Linked DNA regions of Homo sapiens: regions 2 and 3 are each linked to region 1. The links come from fine-mapping of genetic effects on gene expression. A gene starts in region 1. Each other region holds a variant in brackets. All regions are shown on one strand. Distances are from middle to middle. Region 1 holds the start of MTHFS (methenyltetrahydrofolate synthetase). Region 2 holds the start of LOC124903536 (a long non-coding RNA gene). Region 3 overlaps ST20-MTHFS (ST20-MTHFS readthrough).

The links.
Region 2: its variant is fine-mapped to the expression of MTHFS in whole blood (TOPMed, PIP above 0.99).
Region 3: its variant is fine-mapped to the expression of MTHFS in B cells (CEDAR, PIP 0.95).

Annotation. Positions count from the first base shown.
Region 1 is chr15:79,891,043-79,900,680 of GRCh38, reverse strand. It overlaps MTHFS (methenyltetrahydrofolate synthetase), which reads left to right and starts at 3,667. Exons shown (of 3, transcript NM_006441.4): 1 at 3,667-3,809. The coding sequence starts at 3,693. All of the region lies in intron 2 of ST20-MTHFS (ST20-MTHFS readthrough), which reads left to right. It overlaps ST20 (suppressor of tumorigenicity 20), which reads left to right. Exons shown (of 3, transcript NR_037653.2): 3 at 1,556-1,839. RefSeq lists an enhancer at 3,169-3,218 and a silencer at 3,359-3,658.
Region 2 is chr15:79,830,324-79,840,838 of GRCh38, reverse strand. LOC124903536 (a long non-coding RNA gene) reads left to right here and starts at 919. Exons shown (of 2, transcript XR_007064730.1): 1 at 919-7,313; 2 at 7,864-10,515. The variant GGCCATCCTCCAT/T (reference allele first, on the strand shown) is at 3,997.
Region 3 is chr15:79,859,876-79,870,390 of GRCh38, reverse strand. The region is part of intron 3 of ST20-MTHFS (ST20-MTHFS readthrough); the gene reads left to right. The region is part of intron 2 of MTHFS (methenyltetrahydrofolate synthetase); the gene reads left to right. Among named protein-coding and RNA genes, the nearest start is that of MTHFS, 32 kb to the left of the region's middle. The variant T/G (reference allele first, on the strand shown) is at 4,691.

The sequences.
Region 1 (9,638 bases):
ATTAAGGGCCTGAGAATTTTCTCTCACATTTGAATGAACACTTTCATGGTATATGTAAATATTTTCCTAGTTTATTGTTCTTTTTAGTTTTTCATAGTTAAAAAAATTTTTAATCTTCATCTGGCTGAATTTATCAATATTTTCTTTGTTCACTGTCCTTTCTTTAGACGTTGATGTATATGACATGTTAACTGATCAATGATAATAGACAATGATTATCGTTATAATAAAAGTCATTTCAGAGGGTCTCATCATACTTGCGAAATATGGTGTTTAGGAAGGGGCGTAATGAAGTGGATACCTCCCTAGAGTGTAATCTATGAGTATGTACTGGCAGAAGGGAAAGAGGAAGAAGAGGGGCAGTTTCCTTCCTCTGTCAAGGCATGACAGCATGTCTCAGAGCACGACGCACACTTACGTAGGCAGAAAATGGCTTTCTAAGTCTTTCAAATGAAATCCCCCTGGCTGGTGGTATTCATCTGCTTTGCCAGTGATGTTCATAAAATGATTCCAAGGCACCGCAGAGCTCTCGAATCTCTCCCAACTATCAAAGGGTTATGCTTGGTTTACGTTTCAATATTAGTTACACTTTGCTCTGAGCTACTTGCAGGCATTTGTAACCCCAGGTTCTGGAACCTGTAAGATGCAGCCACAAATGTTTGCTAGATGAACATTCGAAAAAATTATTTTAACAATTTTCGAATATTTTGGCACTTGTTTGGAAATGTATGGAGTGGAAAGAAGTAGGGTATTTGCATTCTAATCCAGGTCCAGGCACCAAGGGTTTGGCTAATCTTAGATAACTGATTTTTTTTGTGGGCCTCACTTTCCTCATTTGTTAAGAGAGAGCATTAGGCTAGATGATCTCAGAGGGACTTTTCAGTGAGGATTCTATGATTATAGATTGTAAATTAAATAAAATGTCCAGTTAATTGGGTTATCCTACATTTTTAAAACTATGTCCGATCACAAAGAGAGTAGATTATAAAAGAAACCATCAACCTTTTCATAGCTTCAAAGGTATTGGTTTAATTTGGATTTACTGTGAGTTCTCATGAGTTTCAATACAATGCAGTTTACAGTATAATAGAATTCATATTACAAATATAAGTGCATTGAAATCAATGTTGGACAATTAAACAAGAACAAGAACAAAAAGACTTTTTATCCTCTAGAGCTGTGCTTGCTGTTCACTATGGTAGTAAAATGTGGCTAGTCTGAATTAAGATACGCTGTAAGTACTAAATACTCATGAGATTTTGAAGGTTTGTTATGAAAAAAACTATCTCATTAGTGATTTGACATTGATTACATACAGAAATCATTATCACTAAATATATCTTAAAAATTAATTTTTCCTATTTTTGTACTTTTTAAAATGTGGCTACCAAAAATTAAAATTACAGATGTAGGCCACACTGTGTTTCTGTTACACAATGCTCCTTTAGAGGGATAGAAGATTATTTGCATTATTTAAATGAAAATATTTTTGCTTTTTATTCCAGCATACTTAATCTCCAATGATTTTTAAAATGTTAAATTTATTCTCTCATAGGAAAATGGCTTTGTAAAGAAGCTTGAGCCTAAATCTGGCTGGATGACTTTTCTAGAAGTTACAGGAAAGATCTGTGAAATGCTCTTCTGTCCTGAAGCAATACTGTTGACCAGAAAGGACACTCCATATTGTGAAACCGGCCTAATTTTTCTGACTCTTACGAAAACGATTGCCAACACATACTTCTACTTTTAAATAAACAACTTTGATGATGTAACTTGACCTTCCAGAGTTACAGAAATTTTGTCCCTATTTAATGAATAAATTGTATGTATTTTTCTCTATATGCCATTTTTGTCTTCAGTTTTGGAGTCTGGCTGGAAATTCAGCCAAAGGGTAAAAGCTCAACACAGGATCCAGGCAATTAATTATGGGATGATGACCAGGAAGGCGGTGTCTTTTCTGCCCCAGGCAGACTTTTAAGGTGTGCCATTACCCCAAAAGTCCTTTTCTGTGTCACTAGGCTAGACTGCAGACTAGACTGAGAAGCGGACTCAGGCTAGAAGCAGACTCAGGTCGGCTTCCCTCTTCCCTCCTTCCTTCCCATGCTTTCTGCAGTTTCCAGTGCCCCTGGCTGCTTAAGAGTTTCCATTGATGCCTCCTCCCCAGCCTTCTCTCTCTGGCTTGCCATTTGGGGTTGATGGATATGGCAACCTGATATGCAGGATACTCTGGGATATTCTGAACAAAGAAAATTGGTAAATGATTCAACGTGGAGCTAGTGTTAATTTTAATTTTTATTTTTTGGTAAAAATGAACAGATTAGAAAAGTACGTAGTTTGTTAGACCTCGTGTTCTAACTTTTAGGTCAGCAAATCTAATTGCACTATGTATACGCTGTACCTGCCTGGCCTTCCCTTTTTCTTACAACACAGTCCCCCTGGGACTTGCATTAGCTTTCCCTGGAAGCTGTTGATAGATTCCATAAAGAAGCCAGAACTCCCCTCTCAAGCCATGTGCATTCTCACCGGGCACTTAATTAATGCTTTACCTAGGAGGTGTGATTCTTAACGGTGGGGATTAAGACACTGGGGCGGTCAGTAGGGACGTATTTTTGGCAGAGACAGCTCTGGTTTTCTTAGGAAGTCACATCTGAGAGGCAACCGTCTATGCCATCTGAGGCGCCTGTCTACTGGGAGCAGTTTAAGACTTAACAGTTTCTTTTACCTCTTCCTGCAAGTGCCTCACCCACCCCCCAACTGCTTTTAGTTTTAATTCATTTTTGTGTTTTAATCAGAGCTGAGTGGTGGGAATGAACAGTCACTGATGGTTATAACAGGAAGTACCTATGTGGGCACTATTACCTGGAATACATTCACACTAGAAACCCGCAAAATTTGGCTTTTACACTACAGTTATTGCTTTAGCAGTGTTCCCGATTATGTATCATCTATACATTCATCACATAAGGACATTTCCATCAACCACTGTGGTCCCTTAAGATTATAATGGAGCTGAAAAATTCCTAATACCTACTGATGTGGTAGCCAACCAACACATTACCTTTTCTGTGTTTAGATACACAAGTATCACGGTGCTTACAATTGCCTACAGTATTCGGTACAAAATACGCTGTACAGGTGTGTAGCATAGGTGTGTAGTAACTTTGTGTAACTACACTCTGATGTTTGCACAAGAAGGAAATCGGGGCATCTGTCAGACCTATCCCTGTAGTTAAGCGACTCGTGACGATTTCGCTACATGTCCTGCCTTGCCCTTCTTTTCTGGCCCCTGAAGTCCCACTACTGAACAGTACAAGAGATGCCAGGCACCGTGGGTACTGCCGGCCATCTTTACCATCCCCGCCAGTGGCGCTGCCGCCTCCGCGGTCCCGGTGAGGGCCCAGGCTCAGGGAGGTCAGGCGGCAGGGCAGCGACGGCGCCTCGCCACCGCTCCCCTAACCGGGGAGGGCGAGCCGGACCACGGGGACCGCACGAGGGCTGGGTCCCAAGGGCCAGAGGCGAGGTAAGCGCGCGGCGCGCCGCGGGCCCGCGTCCCGGAAGCGGGGTGGGGGCGCTTCCCCGAGCCCCGACCCGCCCCTAGGCCGCGGATCCACCTGGGAGCGGCCAGGGGCGGAGACCGAACCCGAGGGCGCCCAGGGCGCCGAGGGCGGGACTGGACTCGGCTTGGGCGTGAGATGGCGGCGGCAGCGGTGAGCAGCGCCAAGCGGAGCCTGCGGGGAGAGCTGAAGCAGCGTCTGCGGGCGATGAGTGCCGAGGAGCGGCTACGCCAGTCCCGCGTACTGAGCCAGAAGGTGCGAGGCCGCCCGTAGCGGAAGCCGCGGCGGACAGACCCTCCGAAGGCCTGGCGGCCAGCGATTGCTGATCTGTGCATGGTCCGTGCTGGCGCTGGGCTAGGCGCCCCCCCACCCCCCGGCGCGCGCACGTTTCCCCTCCCGGCGCGCGCACGCCCCCTAGTCGTGGTCTGGACGCTCTTGGCACTATGGCGGGGAGAGGGCCCGGTAGTGAAAGTTGTGGGGCTAAAGAGCGAGAGGACGGCAGGGGTTGACAGATTTATCTCTGGGAGGGGAGTTTGTTTGCATGGGTGGCTCTTTTGGTGCTCGAAAACCCTCCGTGGGGATGACGGTGCTGTGGTGAGAGCACGGTGAGAACAGAAAGTTGTGGTAGAGGAGATGGGTGAACACCTGAGTGCCCAGGTTCCCTCAGTGAGGCCTAAAGTTAATGAGCTACGAGTAAGACTCCGGTTATATTAGTAAAATGGCCAGAGAAAGATGCAGGTGCTTTAGACGAGGGAACACCAAAAAAGGTGTGGAGATGCCAAAGGGCAGAACTCAGAGGTTGACTGGACTTCACTAAGCATATGGAGGGCTAAGGCTGTGTCTCAGTAGCTCCAGGGCCTAGGCTTTTCCTGTCTCAGAGTTGGTCAACATTAAATGCTTTTTCTTGAGTGAACGAAAGGAAGACTTGGCTATCATATCCAGGCTTCCCAAGAACGTAGGAAACAGAAGAGAGAAATGAGAGGAATAAGTGAGGGTCCGTGTTTGTTGGTTAGCAGACCTCTGTTTCATTACTTTCACCAACTGCACTGCTATGTATTTTTAGTCTATGTAATGTCAGTTTTCTTATCAATAAAATGGCAGTCATATCCTGTTGTGAAGGCATGTTCTAAAGAGTTTTTGGGGACTCATTTTTGTTAGACACCAGAGGAAGAAAAATTTAATGTCCCCTGAATAAGTACGTATTTGTAATTCTGTTGTAAGTCAAACTGATGATCTGTCTTCCCAGCATCATGCTTCAGAGACACCAGATATTTGGAAACTTGATGTTCCTTGGAATTAGTTATACCATCAGGCTTTCTTAATTACCCTTCACTATTCTATTATCCGTTATTTACTCAAATTCAAGGTGCCTATGGGTTAAAGCAGTAAAGCATATATGCTCATTTCACCCCTCTCTTCATCTATGTAGGTGTGTATGAGGGAATCTATACAGATGTTAATTCGTTCGTTCAAACAGAATTATTTTAGCTATTATGAGGAAGCATTGCTGGGTGTTTTAGTAGATGTAAAGGATATAGACTCTTGTCCTTACTATCTAGTTGTTTAAAATTTAGCTAATTCATTCACATATGTTGAACACCTATGTAGTGCACACTTGGCTATATACTGGGTTGTGGAGATGAAAAAGATATGATTGTTGCTCTAAAGGAGCAGAGAGCCTAGAAGAGGAAACAGACATGAATAAAGAATTGCATTGAAGCCAGATATATGATAAAGGTAAACACCAATGTTGTGGAAACATAGCCTTGGGGAGGGGAAATTGGAAAGCTTTCTATTGGAAAATGTTTGAGATGAATTTCGGAGAACAAGATGAATTCTTTCAGGTGAAGGGAAAGATGGGATAGGGGAGTGTGAGTAGGGATATTTAGGCAAGAGATGACAGGATACAGTTTAGCATGGGCTTTGGAACTGCACAGATCTGGGCTGAATCTGGCGCCATTGTTTTTTAACTGTATATCCTTGGACAGGTCTCATAATCTCTCAGAACCTTTGGTTCCTTGTCTATAAAATGGATAATATCACTCTTGTAGGTCGATTGTGAGAGTTAAAGAAGTGTGTAAAGGGATGTATTCAGAGCTTTACCTATTGTTTGTTATGTCCTTTAGGAAGAGTATAATGGCAGCATTTGGATAATGGGTTGAGGAAGGAAGAAAGAAAAAAAATATGGAGACCAGTAAGGGGCTGTTGTGCCAATTCAAGTGAAAGATGAAAAATATGCAAACCAGAGCATGGGCAGTGAAGATGAGGGGAAAGGAGGCAAATGGGAGACTGTTAAGTGAGAAACAGCAGGACTTGGCAACTGATTGGAAGAGGTTAGAGAATACTGGAAGGGGAGGAGAGTCACCAGTGATTCCAAAATTTAGAGCTTGGTATAATGGTGTTTAGCCTTAGGCATAAAGAAGGTAGGAATTGGAACAAATTTTGGAGGGGCATGGGGAAAATAAAGATGAATTCAGTTTCTAATCTTCTACGTTGTCTTTCTCCGTAGAAGATTAGAATTCATAAACTATAGATGGAAATAGTTTACATAGATACAGAGTCACTGACAGCAATAGAATGACGACTGAGAGCTGGCATTAAAGGAGGAGAGAGAAAAATTAAAAAGCAGACCCATGACCCTCAGTAATAAATACATTTTACTCTGTACAAACAAATATACACATACAAGGAACATTTTACAGCTCTTAAGCACATACAATGAAATTTAATATTTTCTTTTTTTTTCAAGACAGAGTCTTGCTCTGTCGCCCAGGCTGGAGTGCGGTGGCATGATCTCGGCTCACTGCAACCTCTGCCTCCCACGTTCAAGCGATTCTCCTGCCTCAGCCTCCCAAGTAGCTGGGATTACAGGCACGTGCCGCCATGCTCAGCTAATTTTTCTATTTTTAGTAGAGACGGGGTTTCACCATGTTGGCCAGGGTGGTCTCGAACTCGACCTCGTGATCTTCCCGCCTCTGCCTCCCAAAGTGCTGGGATTACAGGCGTGAGCCACTGTGCCTGGCTCGAACTTTAATATTTTCTATTCTATTTCATTTAAAAATTGTAGCCCACTATTGATTTCATGACTAACCAATGGATCATCACTGGAAACATCAGTGTACTGTGTAGTGTTTTGCCATAGTGAATGCTCAATAAAGGTGTTAAATGATGTCTTTCATTTAGAAAAGCGTATTTATTCTTATTGGCACTGTACCTTTTTATAACTTAGAAATTTATCAGAGAAGTAATTTAAATGGTAAAGAAATTCAGGTTTATGTCATATCTTGATTCCCTAAGATGAGGAAATTAGTGCCCCTTTACTCACTGTGTTTTCTACTCCCTCTGTCAGTTTCTGACATTTATATTGTTATATTTATGTTGTCAAGTTTTGTAATTTTTCTTTTTCTTTTTCCTTTTTTTTTTTTTTTTGAGAGGGAGTCTCGCTCTGTTGCCCAGGCTGTTATGCAGTGGCGTGATCTCGGCTTACTGCAAGCTCTGCTTCCCGGGTTCATGCCATTCTCCTGTCTCAGCTTCACAAGTAGCTGGGACTACAGGCGCCCGCCACCACGCCCGACTAATTTTTTGTATTTTTAGTAGAGATGGGGTTTCACCGTGTTAGCCAGGATGGTCTCGATCTCCTGACCTCGTGATCCGCCTGCCTCGGCCTCCCAAAGTACTGGGATTACAGGCGTGAGCCACCGCGCCTAGCCAGTTTTTCATTTTTTGAGACAAAGTATCGCTTTGTTGCCCAGGCTGGAGTGCAGTGGCGCAATCTTGGCTCACTGCAACCTTCGCCTCCCGGGTTCAAGGAGTTCTGTGCCTCAGCCTCCCAAGTAGCTGGGATTACAGGCGCCTGCCGCCACGCCTGACTAATTTTTGTATTTTTTGTAGAGACAGGGTTTCATCATCTTGGCCCGGCTGATGTTGAACTCCTGACCTCATGATCCACCTGCCTCGGCCTGCCAAAGTGCTGGGATTACAGGCATGAGCCACCACGCCTGGCCAGGTTTTGTAATATTTAAACTTTGTTCTGTAACTATAATGAGTCTACTGAGCAGTATTTGTGACCGATTTCCAAACTTGAGATTTCAGTAAATTGTATTTACAGTAAACAGTATTTACAAAAATATGTAAAGCACTGAATACATACCTTGTATTTATTTTTTTAATTTTTTTTTAGATGGAGTCTCGCTCTGTTGCCAGGCTGGAGTGCAGTGGCCCAATCTCGGCTCACTGCAACCTCCGCCTCCCGGGTTCAAGCGATTCTCCTGGCTCAGCCTCCCGAGTAGCTGGGACTACAGGTGCGCGCCACTATGCCCAGCTAGTTTTTGTATTTTTAGTAGAGATGGGGTTTCACCACGTTGGCCAGGATGGTCTCGACCTCTTGACCTCATGATCCACCCACCTTGGCTTCCCAAAGTGCCGGGATTACAGGTGTGAGCCACCACGCCCAGCCGTATTTTTGTTCTGTAGATGGTATTCATTGTAGAATCAAGTTGTATGATTGAATATGTAAGAAAAGACATAACTTTATGTCACTAGATATGTGTAGCTAGGAAGGTAATGTTTCAAGTGTCAGTACCAAAGCTTTTCTCTTTTCCCCCATAATTGCTCAAAATCATTCTCTTTTTTACTTTGTTCCCATTTGGAGCATATTTCTAATTTCTGTATTTTTCCAGGAGCTTCTGATTGCCTTTATTTTTCCTTTTTTGACAAATCAAGAATATGTGTTTATCTTATCAATAGATTCTTTTTCATCGTCTGTTAAAATAAATCCACTCTCTTTTTGAAAACACTCCAGCCCCTTGCTTCTTCTGGTCTGGTTGCCTCTGGCCCATTGCACTGCCATTGCCCTGGGGTTCCTCCTTACTCCACTTCTGAGTTAGGGCTGCTTTTTGAGTCTAATATCTTTGTCTTTCTTGGATTCTTTTCCCTTCATCTTATTAGAGTATATTTTCAGATAATTTTTTTTGAGAAAGTATCTTTGGGGGTGGTAAACTTTTAAATATACATTAGGAAATGTTTTACCTTCATACTTGATTGATAGTTTGAATTTCAAATTTAAAATTATTTTCCTTGTTCTGCTCAGCACCCATGGCCCCCATTCAATATGGAGACTCGTGTTTTTCTTTTTCTTTCTCTTTTTTTTTTTTTTTTTTTTTTGAGATGGAGTTTCATTCTTGTTGCCCAGGCTTGAGTGCAATGGCATGATCTTGGCTCATCCTCTGCCTCCTGGGTTCAAGTGATCCTTCTGCCTCAGCCTCTCAAGTAGCTGGGACTACAGGCATGTGCCACCACGCCTGGCTAATTGTTGTATATTTAGTAGAGATGGGGTTTTACCATGTTGGTCAGGCTGGCCTCGAACTCCTGACCTCAGATGATCTACCCGCCTCCACCTCCCTAAGTGCTGGGTTTACAGGTGTGAGCCAAGTATATCTTCTTTGATTATTTATTTTCCTTTGTGCCTTTTTGGAACTCTTGTTAATCAGATAATAAAAATCACAGATTGATCTTCTCTATTTCTTAACATTTTTTTCATTTTTCCTATTTTTGCCTTTTCCCCTACTCCACGGCTTTCTCCTAAGTTGTTTTAATTTTGCTAATCACAATTTTAGTTTCCATTGATTATTTCATAATTCCCTGATTGCTTCCTCCCCATAGCAGTCTATTGTTATTTTAGAAATGCAGTTATCTTCTTGAGTGTGTCTGAGAAAACTAATTAGAATTTCAAAAAATTATCTGTCCTGTTTGTCCATTTTTTCTCCCCTTCTTATTTTTTTCCCCATCCTTCTATTTTGTATTTTGACTTTTCAAAATGTTTGATGATCCTTTGTTATCTGTACATATTTGTGAATGAAGATGTCTTAGCTAATGGGGATTTCCTCTGCCTTTTATGGTTGCTTTGGGATTTCAAGGGAGGAGTGGATTCTGCCTGACCTGCACCCTTATTCTCTGAGTGTTGTGATCTGCTGCTGTTTTGTCAGTAAAATACTGTCCCATCCACTCTTTGTCTTACAGAAATTAGGTCTCTATTCTCTTATTCTCAGTACTCTAATGGATTTTCTTTTTTTGTGCTTCTTTACC
Region 2 (10,515 bases), 60 kb after region 1:
GAGTTTACAGCTTGTTTTTTTTGAGACAAGAATCTTTCTGTGTCCAACCCCCCCAACCCCAGCTGGAGTGCAGTGGCGTGATCTCGGCTCACTGCAGCCTTCGCCTCCCAGGTTCAAGCGATTCTCCTGCCTCAGCCTCCCAAGTAGCTGGGACTACAGGTGCCCGCCACCATGCCCAGCTAATTTTTGTACTTTTAGTAGAGACGGGGTTTCACTATGTTGGCCAGGCTGGTCTTGAACTCCTGACCTCGTGATCTGCCCGCCTCGGCCTCCCAGAGTGCTGGGATTATAGATGTGAGCCACCATGCCTGGCCAGTTTGTAGCTCTTTTAAAAGTATTTTACCTTGAGATGATCAGAGAAATTTAAGTGAATCAAAGTATTGTTCATGGGTACCTCCTATTGCATCCCAAAGAGTTGTAAATATTCTACTACATGTTGAAGTTCTTAATTTTATAAAATTCACATCAGTGATACTGTTAGCACATGAAAGTCTTGCCTGTGAATTATTTAGTAATGCTGTTGCTCAATTCTTAATGTGGAATCTACCATCTCATATTTATATATATATATAATATATAATATAAAATATATATATATAATATATTATATATATTATATATATATATTATATATAATATATTATATATATATATATATATATAAAATATATATATATATTTAGAGACAGAGCCTCTGTCTGTTGCCCAGGCTGGAGTGCAGTCGTGTGATCTTGACTCCCTGCAACCTCCACCTCCTGGGTTCAAGCGATTCTCCTGCCTCAGCCACCCAAGTAGCTGGGATTACAGGAGTGTGCCACCACACCCAGCTAATTTTTGCATTTTTAGTGGAGATGGGGTTTTGCCATGTTTCTCAGGCTAGTCTTGAGCTCCTGGCCTCAAGTGATCTGCCCACCTCGGCCTTCCATAGTGCTGGGATTACAAGCCTGAGCTGCTGTGCCCAGCCCCATCTCACCTTTAAAAAAAACATTTCAGTCAAAGTAGCCATTCCATCAGGGATTAGACTTAGTTTGCTCATAAAATAAACTTGTTTTTTTTTTTTAAGGTAGATTAATTTTGAGAAATATATCCTCACCACTTCATCGCTACCTTAATGTCTTTCTTCCTGCAGTGGTACCGTAAGAGGAGACATGTTGGAAACATCTCTCCTTCTACTCAGCCTCACGCCCTGAAAAATTTCTTCCTGTACTTATTTCTTCAGATTGTCAGCAGTGTTTTCTACTTGTCATCCAATAGTACTTCCTGACAAAAAGATGCGTCAGGGTCTTTTTCCCCCTAAATTGTTTCACCAGTATTTCATCCACATTTCCATGGTATGAAGAAGAAGTAATTTTTAAATGGTATGTTACTTTTTGTCTTTTGCTATTAAGTGAGAAAACTTTTGAAAGGTTTATAAACATTTATGACTATATTTAGTGAGCATTGCTTAACAAGTATTGGAGTTAGTATCTTATGATGTTAAGTATTGCTGAACACATGGTGGAGGTTCGTCTTATCTTCCGGATCTGTAGCTTCTGCTAATTGTGATGGCTTCACACTTTTCATTGTGTGTATCTGAAGAGTGAGATTCATCATTAACCATGGCGAACACAGATACCTACTTTAAAAAATCTTTGTGATAGTTTCAAATTTTTTGGCTGACTTATTGGTAAAACTTAATGTTTTTTCCTGGCTCATGAACAGCTTGCACCAGGAACAGAAGTATCAACTAGTGTTGTCATTTTTGCTTGCATTACAGGCTGAATATCTCCTCTCTGAAATCTTGGGACCAGAAGTGTTTTGGATTTTGGATTTTTTTAGATTTTGGAATATTTGCATTGTATACTTACTAGGTAAGCATCCTTAACTGAAAGTCTGAAATCTGAAATGCTCCCATGGACATTTCCTTTGGGCCTTATGTTGGCACTCAAAAAGTTTCGGATTTTGGAGCATTTCAGATTTTGGCTTTTCGATTTGGGATGTTCAACCTGTATTACAATTATCCTTGGTCTGCTGTTTCTTTGCAAGAATCTTTTTGTTTTTGTTTTTGTTTTTGAGATGGAGTCTCGCTCTGTTTCCCGGGCTGGAGTGCGGTGGTGTGGTCTCGGCTCGCTGCAAGCTCCGCTTCCCGGGTTACGCAATTCTCCTGTCTCAGCCTCCCAAGTAGCTGGGACTACAGGTGTGTGCCACCACACCCAGCTAATTTTTTTTGTATTTTTTTTTTTAATAGAGATGGGGTTTCACCGTGTTAGCCAGGATGGTCTTGATCTCCTGACCTCATAATCTGCCCACCTCGGCCTCCCAAAGTGCTGGGATTACAGGCGTGAGCCACCAAGAATCTTTTTAAGCTACTTGTCCAGTGGCTCGGTTTAGTAAAAACTACCTAATAGGTAAGCCCTTGTGTCTGGGCACATACCTAGGAACTGCAGTACATCTCAATATGCTGAAATCAACTAAACACCCCTCCCACGTTATCTAACTCCTACACCCCTGCCACCTCCCACCACAGCTTGTGTACTGTACCTGACATAGGACCTTCTGATTTGCAAGTGGAGGGAGGGGCTGATGTCAATCTAAATTTTAACTTTTAGCAAAATGCAATTTCTTGTCTTTTAAAGATGAAAAGTAAATATTAATAGAGGTTCTAATGTCTTCTTCCCAAACCCCAGTGGGTTAGGTTCACTGGTCACTGCACTTAGCAGCTCTGCTTGAGCTACAGGGTCATGAACTCCATCAGTCCCTCCTTTGTTGTGTGTGGTGACTGTATCTGTGTGTGTAGCCTCTTGCTGGTACTGGCCTCCCCAGGATTTCTTCATCTTTCTGGTCCCCCTGTGTCCCAATACAAGCCTCTTTGTCTTCTGTCTGAATGCTCTGGTTGGGGCTGTTATTTTGCCCACAGTATTTGGGTGGAATAACTTCTTTAAGTTATTCTTTTAAGAACAGAGTGCCTTTAAGACCCCTGTCACCTAGGAAACAACAGACCCCTTTCTTTTGGGTCTTTCCCTTTCAGACTTCCCCTGGCTGCCAGGATCTATCTCTGAGTATATCGAAGGATTTCCAAGACTAGATTAAAAACTAGAAATACTTTTTAAGTCCCCTACTCTTCCCCTTCCCATTTTCTGCCTCTTCCCATCACCAGTTGCAACTGTTTTTTTATTTTATTTTATTTATTTATTTTTGAGACAGAGTTTCGCTCTTGTTGCCCAGGCTGGAGTGCAATGGTGTGATCTCAGCTCACTACAACCTCCGCCTCCTGGGTTCAAGTGATTCTCCTGCCTCAGCCTCCTGAGTAGCTGGGATTACAGGCATGCATCACCATGCCAGGCTAATTTTGTATTTTTAGTAGAGATGGGGTTTCTTCATGTTGGTCAGGCTGGTCTTGAGCTCCTGACCTCGGGTGATCTGCCTGCCTCAGCCTCCCAAAGTGCTGGGATTACAGGCGTGAACCACCCTGCCTGGTCTGTTTTTCATTTTAATATTGAGGCTTATGATAACAGACCATATCATTGCCAATGAAAAAGATATCTGAAGGAAAACCTGTAGTATTTTATTGCTTTGATTATTATGTGTCCCGTGAATGTCTTATTTATCCTTTTAGTCTTAAAACAGTATGTTTGAAAAGTACACTTTCAAAGCAAATTGTTGTTTCAATGATGAGTCAGATCCCAAAGAGTTCACTACTATAAATGGCAAACATTTGGTTTATCACCGAGAAATAATCTCTTCAGGATTGAAATACAAAAGTGTTTGTTATTTCCTCCCAAGCTTAGAGATAAAGAATACTATATTATTCTGAAGATCTGGGTTGGGATACTGTAGATGTTGACCATGTAGAATGGATACACTGCTATAAGTCCTAAGTACTTGCTGTTCCTCAAATCTAGGGGTAAGATAAGATAGCAAGTCCTACTCCCTGTAGGTATACTTAATGTAAGAACCAGAGGACGGTAGAGATTAGTTATCTGTGTGGCCATCCTCCATACTCCAGGCCATCCTCCA[GGCCATCCTCCAT/T]ACTTCCATGATTATCTTCATAAAACATAACTCTGCCCAAGCCACCTACCTGCTTAACAGCTTTTGATGGTTCTCTATTGCCCAAGGAATAAAGTCCAAACCCTTAGCTTGCAGATAGGGCCCTTTCCAGCCTGGTTATAACCTTGCGTTATCTCTCTCTCTCTCTCCCCCCATCCCCATTTCTCCCCACCCTCCTCCATGTGCGCGCACGCACACGCAAACACACACACACACACACACACACACACACACACACACACACACACACTTTATACCCTTCAGACCAATAATGCTAGGTACCAACAATGTGGGGTAAGAACTAGATTTAAACAATTGAATATGATAATTAGTCTATAACAAGGAAAGTGTGTTAACAGATAGTGGATGATTCGGGAATGGAAGAGTCAGTGAACCACCAAAATATTCTAGAAAGTGAGTATTCACCTTTATTGGCACGTGGATCACCTGGGGATCTTGATACAATGCAGATAGTGATTCAGTAGGTCTGAGGTGTCTAGGGTGGGGCCTGAAATTCTGCATTTCTGACAAATCCTGGGTGCTGCTGCTGCTGCTTGTTGTTTGCTGCCCACTTTGAGTAACAAGATTCTAGGGTGCACTGTCCAATGTGGAAGCCCTAGTCACATGGGACAATTTAAACTTAAATTGATTAAAATTAAATAAAATTTAAAACTTACTTCCTTGGTAAGCAGTTAAGATGGTAGCCACATCTTAACTGCTACATAGGCTCATTTGGCTAGTGCCTACCATATTGAATAGTGCTCTATTTCTGTCATCACAGAAAGTCCTATTGGACAGCACTGTTTTCTAGAGCACTATTTTTCAAACTGTTTTCTACAGACTACCTCTTAAATCAGAATCTCTGGGGATGGGGGTTGGAAATTTGCATTTTACATAAACACCCCAGGGTGCCTTCTGCATGTTAAAATTAGAGGAACACTTCTATAGGGGATCTAAAATCTGCTATCCAGAGGTAAATTTAATGTGAGAATAGGCAAATATCACAGACAGACATGGGGCAGCTCAGCTTAAATTGGAATACTCTCTTGCCAGCCATGAGAATCATATCCAGTTGTCTACAGGTGCAGCAGATTTTGTCTGGCAGAGATGACTTCTGACACCAAAGCTACACAGGCAGCCTGGGCAACATAGATCTTGTCTCTACAAATTAAAAAAATTAGTTGGGCATGATGGCACGTGCCTATAGTCCCAGCTACTCAGGATGCTGAGGTGGGAGGATCACTTGAGCCCAGGAGGTTGAGGCTACAGTGAACCAAGATTGTATCACTGCACTCCAGCCTGGGCATCAGAGTGAGACCCCATCTCAAAAAAAAAAAAAATGGCTACATAGGGTGGAGGAAGTATAGTCCTCAAGCCAGTGGCTTTCTGCAGGTGTGCAGCTGGTCCCAGGTATGTTCTCTGGTCTCATATGCCTTCTTGTCCTCCAAGTGCTAACATCTGGTGAGGACCACAGCCTACATCTGGTTTCAAGGATGACTCCCAGTCCTGGAAGGTACAATCAACTTATTCTTTTTCAGATCAATTGGATCTGCCTTTCCTGCCCAGGAACATATCTAGGGAAAATCTTTTCATTTTTTTGTCACATTTCAGATATAAAAAGAAGTTCCATTTTCAGGGATCAAAAAGTTCAGCCCAATCTTAAATCAAAATTTCATTTTCTTATCCAGTTTTATGCTTGTTTCTTTCTTCTATGTCCCCCTCCTCTCCCAGCTCAGACGTAGTCTTGGTGTAGAATTTCATTTTCCTTGCTCCACAACCTGTCTAATGGCTTTGAAGGTTCTGACAGTCAAGGAGAAAGGCAAAGCCACCTCGAATCAGTGCTAGTATAACCTGGCCATCAGTGCCTTCTGTGTGTCAAATGCCCAGTGGATTTTCTTAGATTTCCTTTGTGGTTTTTATGGAGAACCTCTGCTGGCACTGTGTGTATTGTACCATTCTCTAGCTTACTTCTGACAGTCTCCGCTCAGATCCTGCCCTGCAGAAGCACACTCCTGAAGTTCCCTAGCCCAGTGGCAGCCTTCTTGACCAAGTCCTTTCAGGATGACTTGAGTCTATTAATAGTTCCACTTGAGGTGACTACTCGACTAAATAGGTAATTGGCTGCACGCCAGACTGGAAGTGTCACCTGCTCCCATGCTACTCTTGAGGGCTGCTCCAGACAGTCCACAACTGTCAGAGTTCTGCTACTTCCCCAAGTGCTGGAAGTCACGTGTCACATTCTCCCAGGAACTGCTGTTCCTCTCCTCCCAGAGCTAACAGTAGCACCAGGGTGTCTGATTCTGCCAGGAGGTAGATTCCTCTTTTGGCAAACACTTCCATACTCTGAAGCAGCCTTTACTTGGCTTGGAGTGATGGCAGGGAATCGTGGGGAGGGGAAGGAAAATGTCACAGCACCCTTACACTTATAAGTCCTCTTTCTTCAAAGAGTCTGCTTAATCTCTTTTTTTCTAATACAACCTGGAGAAGGATGGTGGCGGCGACTAAAGAGCCATTCTGGCTCTCTGTTGGTAAATCCTGCGTGGATGTGCATGTTGGACACCCCTTGTCCTGTACCTACATCCTTTCAGACCACTTTTTTCCCTCCAGCCATTGGGTACAGCAGACTGGCTGCATACAGGTGAAGCCAGACAGCAGTTCTCCTCACCTGCATGATTTTCAGCCCTGGAATGTCACATCTGAGTGAGACCCTTGCAAGGACCTTCTCAGTCATTCTGGTGCATGTACAAACCTGGAAGTGTGTTGTAGTTAACACCTCAAGGGGTAATGAATGCTTGGCCAGTGTGGATTAGAAGCCAGTGGATAAATTATCTTGTCTTCCAACCCTTTGGCAGACAATTCCGAGGTGTATTCTCCATCATTCCTGAGAGGATTGTTAGGCTAGTAGCAGCAAACTTCTGTGCCCATGGTGGGAACCAGGTGGATAATTCACCCTCAAATTGGCCTTCCTTCTGTTTCCGTCTTCCCAGTCCCCACTCCTGTTTTTTGGGGATCATTTCCCAAAATATACTTTCTGCATGCAATTCCTTGTCCCAGGCACTGCTTTTTTGGGGACCCAGTCTAAAACAACATGTTCATTACCTCTCTTTAGAATATGGTGATACTTGTCATTTATTGTCCTTGCTTTGTGGAAAATTCTAGACCAAAGGAGAAGTCCCATCTAACATCCTTCTGTACATCATTACTGGAAATGAAGAGCTGACAGTCATAGACTGATTGCCAAGCAGAACCCCACACTGCTTAACAGCTCGCACAGCATTCCTGTTGATGTGAGTTCTTGTTCTTGTTCTGGTTTTTGAATGGGGGGTAATTTGAGGTGGACAGATAAACCTTGATTTAGATGTTGAAGAGGGTCTCTAAGAGCAGGAGGTAAATTGGAGTCTATAGTCTAAGATTGCTTTGTATATCAGTTATGGTTCTTTGCTTCAAGCAAAGACTAAAGTAAGAAAAAAGCGAGCTATTGGAAGGAGGACTAGATGCTGTGGCATGCCTCCCAATTCCTCATTAGGACTGAGGTATGCTCTCCTCCAGCTCCCAGGATGTTGGCGGCAGGTAGCTCTGAGCTGAGGCCTCCCCTGCAATTGTCCTTGGCTAAGGAGGGCCACCTTGCCCAAGGTTACAGCCCCTTCTTGATGGCAGCCTATACCCAATACCTGGTCATTTTGGAGGTGCAAAGCCTTCGTTGCTTCAAGGCAGGACACCTCTGAAGGGCCATCCTAGCTCCAGCTCCCCAGGAATTGGCTGAGGCCTATGTGCAGTGCACAGTTTCATTTCAGGTCCTAGTCTCTGCTCAATCCTGCTTCCTTTCCTCCCTCACAGGTGTTGTTGCTGAGAGCACTTTCCAGTAATCTTTCTGCACACAAATCACCAGCTCAATCTGTTTCCTGGGGAACTTGAACTACAACAGAATGATACTGGGGAGTTTGCAAAATCAAACTAAACATAGGCAGCAGGAAGGACACAAAGCAGGGGAGCCCCAGAAATCTTAGTGGTAGAAACTTTTAAACCTCTTAGGGTACCACCAGGGTATCTCTGCTCAATATTTAAATCCCTGGAAGGGAGCCTCTGATTGGCCTTGTTTGGGTTGGGAATCAGGGCCCTGTGATTAGAACTACCTGGGGTAGTGGAGAGGAAAGAGAAGCAACCTGTGTCTTCCAGACCATGGTATCTGAAGTTTTCTTGGAGGAAGTCAAATAAATATGTGGGTTGAGGATGGGAGCTCTAAGCAGAGGATGTGGTGGCTCATTTAAGATCACACATTGACAAAGAGCAGAGTGGTGTCAAGATTCTGGGACAGAGGCAAGTTAGAAATAAAACTCTTGTTTTTCCCAAGGTCCATCATACAACTGAAATGGAAGACTATGGCTTGCTGACCAATTCTTGCTCATTTGGGGTTACTTTATATAGGGGGATAAGTGTCCCTTCAGGTGGACTGAGAGTCACCAGAAGATTTAGTGGAAGGACCCTGCCTCTGGGGATGCATATGTAGCTGGTACTAATGAGTACTTTCTATGTATCAGAAAGCCACCAAATATCACTCTTCCTCCCCTGAGTTCAGAACCACCTGACAGACACAGGGGTCATATGGGGCTAGGTCGAAAGATCAGCTTGATTAATAATGGATTGGTGGATGTAGCCTGGGTATACAGCTTCCTAGTACTAGACTCCTACATCAGAGACATCCATTCTCCAACCATTCACGAGAAGAACTGGCCAGACACCGTAGGCTTTCTCATTAGGGCAGGAGCTCAGCACATGGCATGTCCACACTGAAAGAATGAGAGGAAAAAATGAATGGAAAATACAGGTGGTATTGAAGAAAGAGCACTCTTCCTGTGGGGGGTCAGATCCAAAATAAAGAAACCAGATGGGGCTGAATCTAACATGCTCTGCTCCTTCTGTGTAACTCACCACCCAGAGTGAGGAGGAGTGAGGGGAGGAGGAGTGAAAGGACAGGTGTGTCGCTCTGGCCAAAGTCCTTCCATGTGCTCACATGGAGCTGGGGAAGAGGAAGTGTGGAACAACTACTTTCCATATATTTACATATATTAGCATATCTAGTTTCACAACACTATGAAGTATCACTGTCCTGATTTTATAGAAGATGAAACTGAGGCCAAGGCCATCTTCCAAGGATGTGCTGGCTTGGGATTTGAACCAAGGAACTAAGTGTCCTCTGATCTGAAAGCCCATGTTCTTTTCAGTGCCCTTTACCTGCTCCTCATTTGGAGTGCAGGGGAAGGGGAGGACTCCTGGCTCTCTTCTCCAGCCCTCACAGGGGTCCTGAAGCTTCCAGCTCACGTTGGGCCTGGTTGCTTGAGTTACCTCATGTACCTGAGTCTACAAAGGCTTCTATGGGAATGTGACAGATTTGAAGGGGCAGTCACTGGGCCCGTACCAGGAAGGCTGGGAATAGGGCTCCTTTCCTGTGGTGCTTAGCGTTGGTCTCCCCTGCAGGACCTATACCCGCTTGCTAGACCAGGCCGTCCTCACATGGCCAAAGAGGCTGCCACAAAGGCCTCACCTTGCCTCCCACCAGGACACCCTGGGCCAGGGCAAGAGCAGCTGCTTTAGCTCAGCCCTTCAGGTCAGGTCTGCAGTAATCAGCTCCTTCCAAGGAAGGCTGGGCCCAATGGGGTCTCTGTTAGCTTAGGCATGCCCTTTAGGCTTAATTCTCTCTGGTTATGAAGCCCCAAGACTCAACCCATCCCCAGCTGGCTAGTCTATTCTGTTGGACTCTGACATTTTCCCCAAACCTGGCTTTTCTCTTGGTTTCCTTACAAGCCTTTGTGTCTTCACCAAGTTGTTACATTTCTTGCTTTTTCAGTCTCTGCAGATGTTCCAACCACTACACATCCCCCTTCTCCCCCTCCATACCCATCTTCCTCTTCCTGTCTCCCTTTATCCTTCTGTCTCTTCTTCCTCCTCTCTTCTTATTGCTCATCCCTGACCTCCGCCTCGACCTTCCCCTCTTTTCCTCTCTAATCCTTCCCCTTGAACCCCAGGGATATAGGCCTGTCTGCAGAGGAAAGATCTTTGTCATGTGATTACTAAACCCCCAACATGTTATTTGGTAGAAGGCAGCACAATAGGAGTTTTCTTCTAGGGGCAAAGGGGCTATAAAAGATTTCCAAATATCATAGAAAATCACCTGAGGATGCTGAGCTCAGGGCAGCTGCAGCAGGGGTGAAGGTGGGTCACAGCCCCCAACCGCCATGGAGATGAAAGGTAACAAAAGGAGAGGGGAGAGTTCCATACCTCATTTTATTCTCTTGACAGTTTTGCGCAGAATTACCCCTGTCTGTATTATTATCACTTGTAAAAAAGCATTTTTTTCATACCATTTAATCTATCAGCCTTTTATTAAAGCCTAGATAAAAGTAGGAAAAAAAAATCTCATCAACATCAGCCACCAGAAGGGAAATTTCAGAGACTGAGATGATCAGATTTCCAAGTTTACTGAAAAACCTA
Region 3 (10,515 bases), 31 kb after region 1:
TTTTAGGCTTTTCAGGCCATGGAATCTTTGACAGCAGCTCGATTGTGCCACTGCAATATGAAAGAAACCATAGACGGTACCAAAACAGACAGTGTTCCAATACAACTCTATTTACAAAAACAGGCAACAGACCAGATTTAGTCTTAGGGCTATAGTTTGTGACCTGTGTTCTAGACAACTAGTCTGTTGTCTTGTGGTGATTAGTATTGTAGGTGAGGTCTGATGTCATTCATGTTTTCCTTTGTAAGAAACTTGTTTTTTCATTGCTTGACTTCTTTTAGGAATTTTTGTTATTTTTGATTTCCAAATTTAATATTCATTAATTTTGTGAATTAATTGGTATTTAGTCATCTCTTTCATCCTAAAGTTTCATGTCCTTTTTAACTCCAGGGAACTATTTTCAACTATCTTTTTTGATAATCCCTTCTTTCCTCTGTTTTTGAAATTATTATTATAGTTACTTTGGTTCTTCTGGATCTGTAATATATTTCTCTCATCTTTTTATCCCCATCACTTTCAAAATCATTTGGGTTTATAACCGAAGTTCCCTATCTTGTCTATTTTATTGATTTGGGTTCTTCTTCTGTCTATCCTGTTATTCCTTTGCCATCATTAACATTTTAAAATTATTAATCTTTTAAAAAAATCTGTTAAGTGAGCCAGGCATGGTGGCTCATGCCTGTTATCCCAGCACTTTTGGAGGCCGAGGTGGGAGGATCATTTGAGCCCAGGAATTTAAGACTAGCCTGGGAAACGTAATGAGACCCCATCTCTACAAAATATTTAAAATTAGCTGGCTGTGTTGGCATACAACTGTAGTCTTAGCTGCTTGGGAGGCTGAGGTGAGAGGATTGCCTGAGCCCAGGAGGTCTAGGTTGCAGAGAGCTATGCTTGCACTCCCACCTGGGCAACAGAGCAAGACTGTGTCTCAAAAAAATAAAACAAAAACCTCTAAGCAATTGTTACAAATCTCAGATTATTCTTTTGTATGACTGTGTTTTCTAATTTTATATTATAGATGCAGCATATTCTCAAATATCATTGTTAAAAGCTTTGTCCTGAAATATGTCTATTTTAATGGGAAATATTTGCACTGATTCTTCAGACTGGTCCTTCTCCCCATCTTTATTGTGAGAGATATAGAATTTAACTTTTAAAATAGTAATTAAATACCACAACAAAGTAAGGATACTTGTGGAGTTGTTTTCTCTTTAAGTAAGTACAATGACTAAAAATACTTCATTTGCCAAGAGTCTGCTTTCGTTCCTTTTGTATATTTTATTAAATGCTGGTGGCATAAATACATACTTACTTTTATTCCTTATGACCTGATGTAGTCACAGTACCCCAAAGTACTGTATGTATTATCAAATAAGCTACCAACACTCACCGTTTTTTCATTTTTCATGAAAAGGTTTACATTAAAAAAAAATGCACCTAGTGTATAGTCAGAGTTCTCAGAACCAATAAGTTTTATGTTTGTGTGTGTGCGTGTACATCTATATTTACATCTATATCTATACTTTTAGGAGCTTTATTATAATGAATTTGCTCATGTGATTGTGGAGGCCTAGAAGTCTCAAAGTCTGCTGTCTGTAAGCTAGAGACCCAGGAAAGGTAGTGGTGTTTACTCAAAGTCCGAAGGACTGAGAACCAGGGGAGCCTATGGTGTAAATTCTAGTCCTTGTGCAGGAAATGTGATGAGATGGCCTAGCTCATGCAGTTAGGCAAGAAAGAAGGGACAAATTCCTTCTTCTGCCTTTTATTCTATTCAGGCCACCTGCATTGAGATGGGCTGTCCACTTTACTGAGTCCACTCATTCAATTGTTAATCTCATCCTAAAACACTCTCATAGACACACATAGAAATAATATTTGGTCTGGGCACCTGTTGGCCCAATTAAGTTGATGCATAAAATTAACCATCACACCAAGAAATACCTCTCCTTTCCCCAAACCCTTCATAGTACGTGCTATATTTCTCTTTGAATCTAAGAAGATTATCTTCTATGAGGAAATAATCTGCTCCACACAGAAACCTGATACAGAGCTCTTTCAATAATGACTCATTCTCAACATCATGAAATTATATTCGAAGTTGCAGAAAATTCACTATTGTATATTGAATGCTACATTGAAATTGGAAAGAAAAAGGTGATATAAAATAAAAGCTATTACATATTTTGTGCTTCTCCCTAATCTGCTTTATTCATTGGAAATTCCTACTTAAGTTTAGTCTGCTTAAAACAAGCTAGATACTTGATTTTGCATGCAACACCTTGGCTGTTACTTTTACTGTCTCCTAGCACTGTGCTACAGACTGCAAAATATTTAGAGAAAATTCAGACCTCGCTCAAAATAAAAAATAAAAAATGCTAGCATGGTCTATACCAACGTTGGATTGCTGGGCTCACTCTCACGTGTGTGATCTCTCTCATTCTCTCGCTCGTGCTCTCTCTCTCTCACACACACACTCCACTCAAAGCTACAGTGTGCATTCTTCTATGATCCCAGTAGATTGTAGGTCTCTGTATTGACTGGAGATACTCTTCCAAGTTGAAGATTTAAAAAAGAACTTTAGATTTTTAGTGCTGATTCTTCATCTTTATATTTAGAAAATTGTCATTTTTAGATTCCTGATAGAAACTTTCTCTAAAACATTATCTTAGTACATTAATTAGAAATTTATGTCCCACATATACTAGCTCTAGTAATTTACTGGTGACTAAGGCATTGTTAAGAAATGTGTTTGGAAAACTTCTGTTGGTTTTTTTTTTTTATGACCATCATTACATTTTTTTCTATTTTTTCATTTATCTACGTTTAAAAATGTTTGGAAATATTTCAGAATTTGATAGTTATAACAAGCTACAAGAGAATAAAGATTTAGCTGGATTACAGAAAAATATCTACTTAGTAATGAGTGAAAATGAGATAAATTTGTCATATGTGACATATGGTAATATACATACAGAGGCCTAAAGAAAACTTCAATGTCCCCCCCTTTTTTTTTTTTTTGCTACGTAATCTTATTTCCTTAGAAAGAGCATATTGATTTTACTCCACTGAGAGTTTGGCTTTCTAAAATCACCTCAACAGTTAATTGATGGTGATAATCAACCAAGAATTGTTCTTCATTTATATAATTTGCTAACTTTCAAGTTCCCATTGAGTTGAGAAAGATAGTGATGATAGCTCTGACAATATACCTGAACCAGTTTGGATAGGAATGTTTAAAAGATGTATTAGGCTATTTTTATCCTGTAGAAACTATAGTTCATAGGAGTGGTGAGTTAGGGGAGGCTGGAGAATGGGGGAAAATGGGAAGTAAGATAAATTGTTGGTGTATGTGGTTTTGCAGATTTGCTTTTTTGGCACTAAAAGAGTACTTTTTTTTTTTCTTTTCTTTTTGAGACAGAGTCTCACTCTGCTGTCCAGGCTGGAGTGCAGTGGCATGCCCAGGCTGGAGTGCAATGGCACGATCTCAGCTCACTGCAGCCTCTGCCTCCCGGATTCAAGCGATTCTCCTGTCTCAGCCTCCCAACTAACTGGGACTACAGGTGCCTGCCACCACCATGCCCAGCTAACTTTTTTGTGTTTTTGGTAGAGGTGGGGTTTCTTCATGTTGGTCGGTCTGGTCTGGAACTCCTGACCTCAGGTGATCCACCCACCTTGGCCTCCCAAAGTGCTGGGATTACAGGTGTGAGCCACCGTGCCTGGCCAATCACTAGCAGTTCTTAAGAAAAAAATGTTTTGGAAGGTCGTGTGTTTGCCCTCGTGTTCTGTGTATGCACGTGCACTGAATAGGAGGCAGTCCCAGGGTCTCGCCTGCTGAAGAGATCCTGCACACCTACTGTCTGCTTGGCTGTCATCCTACTGTATTGTAGAAGCATCCACATCAGCTCCCTTTTTATTTGGGGGTTGTGCCCAGATCCTAACTCTCAACAAGATGTTTTTCATTATGCTTTATCCAGGACACTCTTTCTCACTGCTGTTTTCAAATGCCTTTGGGTTACTTCTGGGAAGTATAGATTCAAACTCTTCCATCAGGTAACTGTTTTCACCAAATAATGTACAGGTAAATATTTGGAAGACATAAGAGAAAATCAAGGGGAAAACTTAGGAAAGAAGGAAACCGTTGAACTCAAATAGTTATCTTCTGGACCCATGATCAGGTCCTCTGAGGGAAAAAACACAGATCCTTTTATTCATGAGAACTGGACATATTCCTGCTGCTGGATTTGTTCTTAGCCATTAGCCTCTCGAATGCCACCATCGCTGTCACAGAGACCAAAAAAAAACAAAAAGCTGCTCCTGTTCCTCCTCCTTAAAAAAAAAAAAAAACTTATAAAATTTCAAACTGCAGTGACTGTTTTCTCTCTTCCCTCACCTTAAAGAGGTTTAGGTTTGCCTGCTATTGGTAGTTCTGATGGGCTCTGTTAGAGATTGTGTGGTTGGTGTTCAGGCCCAGATGAAGAAAGAAGGGAATAGTTTAAATTTGCTACATTTTGTTTTGCTTGAGAAAGATGCAGTAAACTGAGGGGAGAAGGGAATAAGCGATTATTGTAGGCACCTGCCGGAGGGAGCTTTGCCACTGTATGAAGGATTTATTTTCTCCATGGTTGGTTTTTGTCAGCATAGCCCAGTATTTGCAGGGGCAGAAGATCCAAACATGGAGCCTTTGTTAGGA[T/G]TCATGGCCATACCCACATTTTGCCTAGCACACTGCTGAGGGTAAGCAGGGATGAGGGCTGAGGTGGTCTTCCTCGTTAAATCAGCTTTGCACTAGGTGTCTGAGGCCCAAGAAGGGTCAAGATTTGCTTTTTAGCAACTTGCTGCCCAGAGACCCATCGTTACGATACGTATACCTGCTCCTCCTGGCTGGGGGCTTGACTGCAGTTCCACACTGGTTTCCTTCCGGCTCTTCCCAAGGCAGCCATTTCTTTAACATGTATTTCATTATCAAATTCCCTTTTTCCTAAATTATATCTTGCAGAAATACCTCGAAGTTTCCGACTTAGATATGGCATTCTTTCCTGGTTTCTAATCATAATAGACATTTTTCCCAAGTTTGTTTTCCTTTGTTCATTTCACTGGAAATGAAAGTAGAAAGTCAAATATTTGTGCTAAGGTCTTTATCTTGAATTTTAAGACTTATATTTAAATAATGACAGTTTTACAAGTTCAGGTACATTTCCACTTCGTTTTCTTGTAATAGAAATTGTGTATCTTTATGGATCAAGGTTTTCTTTGTAAAAACAGTGGGAGTTACATTATTGATAACATTTTGAATTTAACCTTTTGAATCTGCAAAAGGTTGCTGTAATATTTTGTTTCATTGTGAACCTCTCCCCTGAAACAAAGAGAAAACACATCACAATATTTGGAAGTTTGCCTGGAGTGAACGTTTATTTTTTTGGGGTGTTTTTCTTTTTGACTTTTTAAAAAACAGTTTTTGTTGTTTAAAAAACTGCAAATGCCAGCCATAAAAATATTCTCTATTCCATCTGCCTAAGGCCAAAAAGAAATCAGAATTAGGCAAATGAAAATCAGGAGCTGAGCCCAGTGATCAATTATGTCCACTCTGCCTTTTTCTTTTCCTTTCTAAAGTGTTGTATTTGTTCACTCACTTGTGTAACAAATATTCTGAGAGTCCTACTGTGTGTGACACTGTGCCAAGCAAGGGGGTACTAACTTGTCATAAGCCTGGACCCTGCTTATGAGTCAAGTTTCTTACACTATATTGAAGTAAGCACCAGAAAGCGTGTACAGGTCTATGAAAGCTCAGTTTCTGGACATTTACTCTCAAGGACTTTTTTTTTTTTTTTTTTTTTTTTTTTTTTTTTGTTGAGATGGAGTCTCACTTTGTTGCCCAAGCTGGAGTGCAGTGGCGCAATCTAGGCTTAATGCACCCTCCACCTCCCGGGTTCAAGCGATTCTCCTGCCTCAGCCTCCTGAGTAGCTGGGACTATGGGCGCGTACCACCACACTTGGCTAATTTTTGTATTTTTAGTAGATATGGGGTTTCACCATGTTGGCCAGGCTGGTCTCAAATTCCTGACCTCTGGTATTTCGCCCACCTCAGCCTCCCAGAGTGCTGGGATTACAGGTGTGAGCCACCGTACCTGGCCCCAAGGACTTTTTGTACAGAGACAGTGACATGGGTAAATTATTAGTAGCTACCCTTTGTCTACTAAGTGCTAAGCCTTATGCTAAGTGCTCTTACATATGTAAGCTTATTACTCATCATGACTATGTTATTATCTCATTTTCACAGTTGCAGAAAGTAAGTCTCAGAGCATTATTTATGGGCATGCCACAGTCAAAAGGCAGAGCCAGGTCTTCCTGCCAGGTCTGCTTTCCCCGAAGGCATGCTGTTTGTGGGATGGCACACGGTGCCTTTCCTTACTGCCGTCATGTGCTGTGGAGGCGAGTAAAAGGAGGGCATGCTCAGGTTATCAGTTAGAATCAGATTCGGCTGCATGTAGCAGAAAACTCCAAAGTATCAGTGAAAACTTCAAAATATCAGTGAGATGCTTGGAAAAGAAGTCTGGGAGTTGTATTTATAGTCTGTGGCTGTTGTACAGGCCCCACAGTCATTAGGGACAGATCCTGCCGCATATGCCATATGGTCCTGCCTGGTATCTCAAGCTTCGGCTATCAACTCTGAATTGTAGTCAGCAGGAGGAAAGAGAGGGTGTTGGGAGAAAAAGAGCATCCTTCACCTTGAAAGTCCCATTTGTCAGAACTTAGGCACAAGGTCATACATAACTACCAGGGAAGGTGAGAAATGTGGTGTTGCGGTGGGATTCATGGCCTCCTGAGTAAAGTTTTCTGCTACTAAGGAGAAAGAGAGAATGATGTCCAGATGGGCAACCAGCAGCCTCTGCTGCATTCAGCTCAAGGCAGGTTGTGATTTCAGTTGGTGTCATGGCCTGAGCTGAGGCTGGAGGCCCACGTTGTGAAGGGTATTGTATGTCACACATCTGGGATTTGAACTTTATTTTGTAGGTGCTGGGAGTTAGTTATTGAAAGACTTTAATCATAGGAGTAACATGACTAGTTCTATGTTTGGGAAAGGTTGTTCTGCCAGAAATAAGGAGGACAGGCTGTCCCAAGGGACAGCCAAAGAAACTGGGAGTGGACCATCCCTTGGGAATCTGATGGATTCGAATGGATGAGAAATGATGACCACTTTTAGAAATGGAGAGGATAGAACAAGTTCTGACATATGCAGCATGTAGAGTCTCCAGGCCACTTGAGGCTGTTGAGGGACAGTCTGGCTTTGCCATCTGCATGTCATGCTCTTAACCTAGGCAAAGAATGCAGAAGAGAGAGGAGATGTAGGGGGTTGGGGGACACATAGTGAATCCCGTTTGAGGTGGCTCCAGGACCTCCCAGAAATGCTGGTAGATGGCTAGTTGGATATATAGCTCTGGAGGTCAGGACATAGGAGATATTGATTCAGGACTTGCCAGAGTATGGTCTTGGGGTGTGCCCTGATATTACAAACAGGGATCTTAGTGGCTAGGTGATGAGGCCATGGCAAATGTAGATGGACCAAGATCAATTTGCCTTTCTAGATGAGGTTTTCTAGGTGAAATGTTTTTGAAACTATTTTGTAGCCTAGTATAATTTATAAAAGTAGAGAGAAACTATAAATATAAATTTGGAAGGGGTTAGCTAAAAGGAGAAAACAGCAGAATCTTCATATATATAGAAATGGATATTAATTTGCTAGAATTAAGAGACTGCAGGTAAAGATAGTTTTTTTAATACCTCTTTTTGCTGTAGAAAGGACAGGATAAAATGATAAAGGGATGCTGGAATGAGGAATGGTAACTTTAGGCAAGATAGTCTTCTGTGAGGGCTGATATGATCAATGAGAGTAAGACATTAGAAATACAAGAATTGTCCTGCTGCTCACCCATCAGCATTTTCAGTTTCTCCTTGCAAAAGTAGTAATTAACTTTGTACTTTGAGCTGTATGTTCAGTTAGTGATAAACCGTAGATAAAAAGCAGATTTAATTGGCTGACCCCAGGTAAGACTTGCCTCTCTCATGTACCCTTTGAAGGTTTAACAAATAAAATTTGAGGGAAAGGTTGATGTTACTTATAGGGTGTGTTAGTTAGTTTTTTGGGGGTGGGAAGGAGGCATATTTATGTGCAAGCTGCCAAATATTTGAGATAAGGACATAGTCTTTGAATGAAAAACAGGGATATGAGAGGATTGATTCAGTTAGCCGTCTTGGCCAACCCAAGTTAACTGTACTTCATCTTAGTCTATGTTGGTGTTAGAAACAACAAAAAGGAAAAAAAAAAGCCAAACAGTAGAGCAACAATTCATTCATTCATAAAAGTAATTACATGCCATCTAACTAATCACATGGTAAATAATTTAAATGGTTTAGAAGGGTATGAAAGAAAAAGTCCCACCCCTCTTCTTCCCAGCCTGTTCCCCAGATGTGACCACTGTTAACATACTTGTGTATCCTTCTAGATATATATATTTGTATCCTTTTAAAAAATTTATACAGATAGGATCGGAGTTCACATTTTGTTTTGCATCCTACTTTTTCACTTGTTGATAAACCATAGAACTCTTTTCATAGCAACACATATAGATTTAGCATAGTGTTTTAAGTGGTTACATAGCATTGATGTGCTCTAAGTTATTTAACCAGTCTTCTGTTGATAGCTATTTGGGTTGCTTCTGTTTTTTAGGTATTACAAATAAAAATAAAAAAGAACATCCTGATAGATATTTTTCTGCATAGTTATGCAAGTAAGTCCATGGGATCAACATCTATCCATGAAATGGCTATGAATTCTAAATTTTTATAGGTGTTTCTGTATTGCTTACTAAAAAAGGTTATGCCACTTTACGTACTCATCACCAACACATGAGAGTATGTTGACCTCTCCCTGAGTGAGTGAATGGCCGAAATAACAAATGAACGTGCATTAATGACTACCAGTTGTGTGGTAGCCTCCATGTGATGCCCTGGAAACAAAAAGATAAATAAGGGGCAGTGGTGTCTGGCCATAGGAGTTCACATTTTGTTGGGGAAGACAGGTGTATGGAGGGGGACGATGGATAAGGAGTGGTTAGGATCAAGGTTTTGGTCTTAGGTGGAGTTGAGTCTAGTTACTGACTGCTGCATACTAGCTGAGTGGACATGAGTAAACCCCTTCACCTAAGCCTCTGATCATTTGAAAATGAGGGTAATAATATCTGCTTCACTAGATTGTTTTGAAGATTAAATAGGAAATTTACATAAAGCTTTTAGTACAATGCCAGTGCATATAAGTGCTTGATGATGATGATGACGACGATGACTATTCCACATGAACTAGTGATTTCAGTCCTGGTGCTAAGGATCCCATTGGGATGTGCCCAGAGTGCTCTGGGAACACAAGATGGAGATTTCTCTTTGCCTAAAGTGCATGAGAAGGCTTCAGAAGGGAAGTTGTAATTAAGTCTTTAACTTTGAATAGTGGTTTGCCATGAGGTTGTATCAGAAGGAAACATACCCCTTTTAATAAGTCTCTCAAGAAAGTACACTGTAACCGGAAACCTCATTAATATATTGAAAAAGTTATTCTCAGAAGAAATTCATTGTGGGCATCTGTGTGAATTTTCAACCTTGGAAGTAACTTAATTTTGTCTTATCAGTATTTCTGGTTTTGTTTTGAAGTACTAATCAAAAAAAAAATCCTTAAATTTTAATTTCTCCTTGCTTCTTTGAAAAGTTATAATGGTTAAAATACACTACTTATGAAAATTTCAAAATATATACTAAGCTTTCTAAAATGTTTTTTAACCTTTCTAATTCATCTTTTGTAAAGTGCTGTTCTTTGCCCCATTTCTTTCCGGGAATTTATCTTTCTCTTGGTATTCATTTATTTTTTTCCAGGTTGGTAACAATTCTTTATATATTAAAAGATTAACCATTAGTCTGTCATGTATGCTGCAAATAATTTGTATCCATTTTTTTTTTTTTGAGATGGAGTCTCGCTCTGTTGCCCAGGCTGGAGTGCAGTGGTGCGATCTCTGTTCACTGCAAGCTCTGCCTCCTGGGTTCACGCCATTCTCCTGCCTCAGCCTCCCGAGTAGCTGAGACAACAGGCACCCGACACCACACCCGGCTAATTTTTTGTATTTTTGGTAGAGGCAGGGTTTCACCATGTTAGCCAGGATGGTCTCCATCTCCTGACCTCGTGATTTGCCCACCTCGGCCTCCCAAAGTGCTAGGATTACAGGCGTGAGCCACCACGCCTGGCCAATTTGTATTCATTTTTAAACCTTTTTCTTAACTTTTTGTATTTTGAGGGCGAGGATACAGATGTTTTAAAATGTTATTAGTAAAGTTTATTAATGTTTTCTTTTAGGATTTTTGCCTTTGGCTTTATTTTTAGGAGTTCTTACTTCACTTGAGTTTATATAAATCATCATCATTTTATCTTAGTATTTTGTGTTTTTAAATATTAAAGTCTTAATCCTTTTTGAATTTTTA